Linked DNA regions of Homo sapiens: region 1 is linked to region 2. Evidence: fine-mapped expression QTL. A gene starts in region 2. The other region holds a variant in brackets. All regions are shown on one strand. Distances are from middle to middle. Region 1 overlaps CNTN1 (contactin 1). Region 2 holds the start of LRRK2-DT (LRRK2 divergent transcript).

The links.
Region 1: its variant is fine-mapped to the expression of LRRK2-DT in spleen (GTEx, PIP 0.97).

Annotation. Positions count from the first base shown.
Region 1 is chr12:40,956,027-40,958,951 of GRCh38, forward strand. All of the region lies in intron 14 of CNTN1 (contactin 1), which reads left to right. Among named protein-coding and RNA genes, the nearest start is that of PDZRN4, 230 kb to the right of the region's middle. The variant G/T (reference allele first, on the strand shown) is at 1,291.
Region 2 is chr12:40,222,156-40,225,080 of GRCh38, forward strand. It overlaps LRRK2-DT (LRRK2 divergent transcript), which reads right to left and starts at 1,667. Exons shown (of 9, transcript NR_186757.1): 1 at 1,504-1,667. It overlaps LINC01779 (long intergenic non-protein coding RNA 1779), which reads right to left and starts at 2,748. Exons shown (of 1, transcript NR_186584.1): 1 at 921-2,748. LRRK2 (leucine rich repeat kinase 2) reads left to right here and starts at 2,842. Exons shown (of 51, transcript NM_198578.4): 1 at 2,842-2,925. RefSeq lists a silencer at 2,608-2,925.

The sequences.
Region 1 (2,925 bases), 730 kb after region 2:
ACACAAGAAAAGCCTCATTATTTGTTTAGTAAATGCTGTCACTGTCATGGGTTATATGTACTTGCTAACATAATTCTGAATGTAGCTGAAAAGAAGTGAATACATATTATCTTAAGAGCAGATACCAAAATTCTTGACAATTTGACAAGTTCATTCAAACAAGGCATATTTAGCGTGATTATTTGCTTGGCACTGTGCTGGACTTGAGAAGACAGCGCATACAGCTGTATACATATATAACACAGGGATACAACATGTCTGCTAAATAAAACAGACGTATTTCCTCACATCAAACTTATAGTCGGCCAGGGAGAACAACTTCAACCACATAATCACAAAAGTGTTTAACTGCATTTACGATATGTAATATGACAGAAGTTTCATGGTAGCATAATAAAATATAGAAAGGGTACCTGCCTAGTCCACAGAAAATGGAAAGACTTGCTGGAGAAAATGATTTCAACTGGTATTGGGTAGAGGTGAAGGTGATAGGGGAGGGGGTATTGAGGTTATGAGGGGTATGAATCACAATTCCAGAAGACAAGACAATGTGATGAACCAGAGACTGAAGAGAACAAGATACATTTGTGGTCCTAAAAAGAGAATGTTCTGCCTGGAGAGCAGAGTGTGAGTGAGATGGCACACTAGGTGAGCTGGAGCATCAGAGAGAGCCTAGAGAATGGAATCAAGTTGGCTACAATAATGCTATGGCTTTTGTCCCAGGAAAGGGAAATTTTAAAGGTTTCAGTTTATCTGCTTTTATGGAGACAAGTGAGTTGGGCCCAGCTGCATTTTTAAAAGGTTATTCTAGGTAACCAATAGAGGAAAGAATAGAGTGGAACAGTGGTGGAAGTAGTGATCAAATAAGATGTAGGGGTTCAGGTGAGAGATGTGGGTAGTTTGGACAAGAGGCAGTAGTGATGGAAAGAATGGATAAATTCAAGAATTTATGATGAGTTTATGAGAAAGTTGAAGAAAGGGAGGGGTTAAGAATGTCCTAGAAGTTCCTGGAAAGTCAGATGACTAGAAAAAAATGAGTATTTGAGGAAGGAAAGCCAAATGCTATCAAGAAGTCAAATAAGATGAGCTGAAGCAGTGGGACTCAGATGAGAATTGATTGAAGAGTAAGAAATGAAGAAATGGAAAAACTAAAAACAGAATAGATATTGTCAGAATCCAAGTAAAAATCAAACAATCAAACAGCTTAATATGAGAAAATAAGAATTATTTATTTCCAAGAGAAAGAAGAGAAAAGAAGAGAGAAGTAAGAGATTGGTAGTAGGAGTGGCT[G/T]CCAACAAGATGGCAGAGCACTGGGAGAGGTGAAGGTTACTGGGAAATTCCCAGTAAATTTACGGCCAACAGGACTTTTAAAAACAGAATTATGCAGTGGATGATACTTTTCAAGGTTGATTTACCCTACCTTTTTTTTTTTTTTGATATAACCAGTTCCAGCTCCTTCAGTTGTTCAGTAAACTAACTTTACTAGGTAAGACTTCATGCTATTTGGTTTTCTGATAAAATAGAGAAAGTGCTGAATTTCTAGTCTGGAGCTCCCTGGTATGACAAAAATAAATAAATAAATAAATAAATAAATAAATAACAGACCAAGAGGACAGAAGGAAAAAAACTCCCCTATTGCAGGAATTTGTAGAAATCTTGGGAACTGTTTCAATTTTTGACCAATCTATACCTCAAGGGACTGGAAGATCTCAATCGACATTAAATTAAGACTGGCTAATATCAAGGATTAAGGTGTGTGGCCACTGATCAGTTCTTTATATGGAGATATTAATATTCTGTTCCAACTAACTATACCAATATGCTCTCTCAGCTATTATTCTTAACCTCATTAATCCAGCAAGGGTTGCAAACCCAAATGTTTTCCAAGAACTGGAGGGAACATGATATATGAAGAGGTTATTGGTAGAACCTATGGTGAAGCAAAACGTTCACTCCATGTACAGTCATGATACATCATAGGTATCTAGATATTTATCACTGAAATAGTAAATCAATATTTTTGGTTCATAGGAAAACCAAATGTCCATTTAAAAATTGAGTTTTCCAAGTTTTCATTCTAAGAAAATATCTTGGAGATAATTAACATGAACTTTGACATGCTCCTGCTACCATACAAGCTGAGTGACCTTAGTTATCTTAGTTAAATTACTTGGATTCCTTAAGTCTAACTTTTACTGTTAATCAAATGGATATAATAAGACCTATCTCATAGGGCAGTTGTCAAAAAAGAATTGAATAAAAGTGTGTGTATGTGTGTGTGTGCCTGTATGTGTGTATGTATGTGTATATGTGTGTGTGTATATATGTGTGTGTGTGTGTGTGTGTGTGTGTGTATGTATGTATGTATGTATATACTTGCACAGACCAGGACCCGGTATAGAGTAGGCATTGAATAACTATTAGCTATTTTTGGAAATTACATTGAAATGGTGTCTCATCATCACAAGCAAAATTTCCTCAAGACTCAAAAATATGTGTTGAACACTCTTGGAGGCAATAGAATAGAGCATTGAACAAAACAAATACTCTTGTCCTCGCAGAACTTATAATTTGGCAACAGAGTACATGTTAGTGGAATTGTACATTTTCTCAATTTCTGCAAACTTTTAGTATCTTTGTAAAATGAACTGTGGCACATATTAAAACTAGTCAATTAGATCAGCTTTGTGAAACCAAATCAATCATTCTTCCAAACCATATAGTATTTGTTTGTACTCATTGATACTTAAAACTTATTGATACTTATTAGACCTTAATATTTCTCTTTAAGAGATATCAATGAAATAGTTTCATCCCTTGAGTTTCTCTCGATATAACCCTCTGATTGTGGAAATAATAGAATGTTAAAGATATGAAAGCTAAAAAATACCTTATCAATAAATTATTCACTTTATTTTTCAGTTG
Region 2 (2,925 bases):
AATATTTATTCATGCCTTTTTAATGCCTTTTAACAGAGTTCAATAATTTATTCATAAAGGTTTTGTAAATATTTGTTAATTTATTTTCAAGGTTTCCCTTTCATTGTCATCATACACACACACACACACAATTGCACTTTATGCTTGTGCATCACTCATGTTTAGGAACACATTTTTTTTATAATGATGACATTAAAAAATACTTATTGGTCATTCAAAATGAATTTCCTTTTCAAAACCTTAGTTTATTATTTTTTTTCCTGGTCTATCTGTGGCGTAATACCCTCCTCCCAGTGATTTGTAAGAACTTTTGAAAGTTGAAGGCAAATTGTATTTCATCATATGTATTTCAAATTTTTTCTTCCTGTTTGCCGTTTGACTTCTAGTTTCATTATTGGGTATTTTTTCTTTGACTGCAGAAAATTTAAATTTGATGGAGTCACATATACTACCCTTATGTGATTTCTTTTTTGTTTTTATGTTTCCTTTTTCAAGATTATATAACTATTAATTTATATTTTATTTTTGAAGTTATTTTTATTTAACTTTTTAATCTATTTGATGTTTGCTGTAATTAGTAATGTCAGTTTTATTTTTTTTCTTTTCAGGAAATTAGCCAAATGTTCTAGCACCATTTTATTCTCCACTGAACCCTGCTTCCATCATAAATTCATGCCTTAATCTTCATTTTCAGTCTTGTTAACTACTTGAAGAGTTGATAAATCTTGGAATTTCAGTCAATCAATTAAACATTTTTGAAAACTAAGAGAATACTTTACCTTAACACTGCAGTAGTTCATGGGAGAATGCTCCCAACAAATAATTCATATTTTCACACTGTCTACTCACAGTCTGGCCAATATAGAGTAGATAATAAATAGGCAATAGATGGATGAATGAATTGTGGAAATTAGGAGACATCTTTTAATTTAGATTTATTTTTCTTTGGAAGGGAGGTAGGTTTTAATTTCTTGCAAGGTTGTAATTCAGTAGAACAGGAAGGGAGAAACTAATGCAGAGGAACAGAAGGAATGCATGAGATGGAGAATGCCTAGAAATGTTTGAGACATTGATTAAGTCATCAGAAATGGAAACAAGTTTAGAAACAACTTAGAAAATAATACACTGTAGGTCTGATAAATATTGTAAGATTGGGAGTTTTTTGTTAAATTATGGAAAATTTTATATAGATACAATAGTAGAACAGACCACATGAACCCATCTCATATTATCTTCAACAATTATCAATTCAAAAGTTGTTATCGTTATCTCTATCTCCACACATTTCATCTTTTCCTCCACCACTGGATGACTTTGAAAGAAATCCTAACCATTTCAACTATAAATATTTTAGCATGTCTCTGTAAAAGTTAAAGACTCTATAACAACAAGACATAGACCCAATATCCAGGTTGAGTAGGAGTTTGCTATCTTACTAATCTAATGTATTAACAAAGTCTAGAGCATTCTTATTAAAGTGGTAGAGCATGAAGAACCTTCTACCTGGAGTTAGGAGATTTGCTGGGTTGAAGTCCTGGCTCTCAACTTCCCACCTGTGTGACTCCAGCAAAGCTCTTCACTTCTCAATTCCAAATCTCAATTTCCTCACTAGTGAAAGAAGGATACATAGTAGTAGTTGTATCCATTTCAGAATTGTCATCAGGATTGAAGTAACAGATGTGAAAACAAAACTAAAATTGTGAAGTAGTAACTTCCAGTCCAATCCTCTTCTTTGTAAGTGATCTTGAGGACAGACACATCACCTGAAGGATAGATCATCTTTGCCTAGCCTTGTCTACAATGTTCTTGCTAGGTTTCTTTTCCTAAAAACACATTACTTAGGTACTTAACAGAACAAACAAACAAACAATCAAAAGACAAAACCAAAAAACTTTGGGGTTATAGACACCCATACTCATAAGTATTTCTGAATACCAAGAGAAGAGTATTTAGGTTTGCTTCTCTCAACTTTTCACCTTTCATTTCATGTACCCTGTCCTTTGTCTCAGCTCTAATAGCTCTGAGAGCTGATTACTTTTCGGGTGTCCCAAGTATCAGGATCCTGCCTAGTGCAACTCAAATTTCCAAAAGTTAATTTAGTGGCCTTTTGGTGACCAGAGCTTCAGATAACTCACAGGGAAACAATGTTTATTTCCTCTCCCACTAACAGTCACAAAAAATCATAAAAAAGAGTAGCGGGGGCAGTTTTGATGGCTAACCCCTCTTTCCATCCTTTGGGGGAAAATTGCTCATCTCCCTATAGGTGGAACTCTAAAGACAATGTATTCCTAAAAGGGGCCATCTGGGCGGTGTCCTCTTTTCCCAGCGCCCTGATTTCTATTCTTAGATCTGGAGATAGGCGGCTTTCATTTTTCCTGCTCCCAGTTCCCAGACCTTCCGTGGGGCCGCAGGATCCCCGGCTGGCGGGTCGCGGAGGGTGGCCGGCCGGGCTGCGCACTGCGCGCCTCCGCTGCGGGGCTCCGGGCCTGTGGACTCAGCGGAGTCCGCTGAGTCAGTTTCTTCCCGCGCGACTCCCGGCCGCGCCGCCGCTGCGGTGGAATCTGGTCCCAGGAGGCGGCGTCCGCCCGGGGTCCGGTCTAGGCGTGCGTGGGGGCCACGGTCACGGTCATCCCAGCCAGGCCCGGCTCCAGCAGCCCCACGGCCGCCGCCAGAGTTCTGCGCGGCCCGTCGCCTCGGCGGAGCCTCTGGCAGGCCCCTGAGCTCGTTTTTGGGGCCTGAGTGGGGGAGGAGGAAGCCGAGCAGGAGGGCTCCGGAGAGGGAGGGCAACGCGGGGCGGGGAGCTGCCTCCTTCCTCATAAACAGGCGGGCGTGGGCGCCGATGGGGCCCGCGGGGAGCGCTGGCTGCGGGCGGTGAGCTGAGCTCGCCCCCGGGGAGCTGTGGCCGGCGCCCCTGCCGGTTCCCTG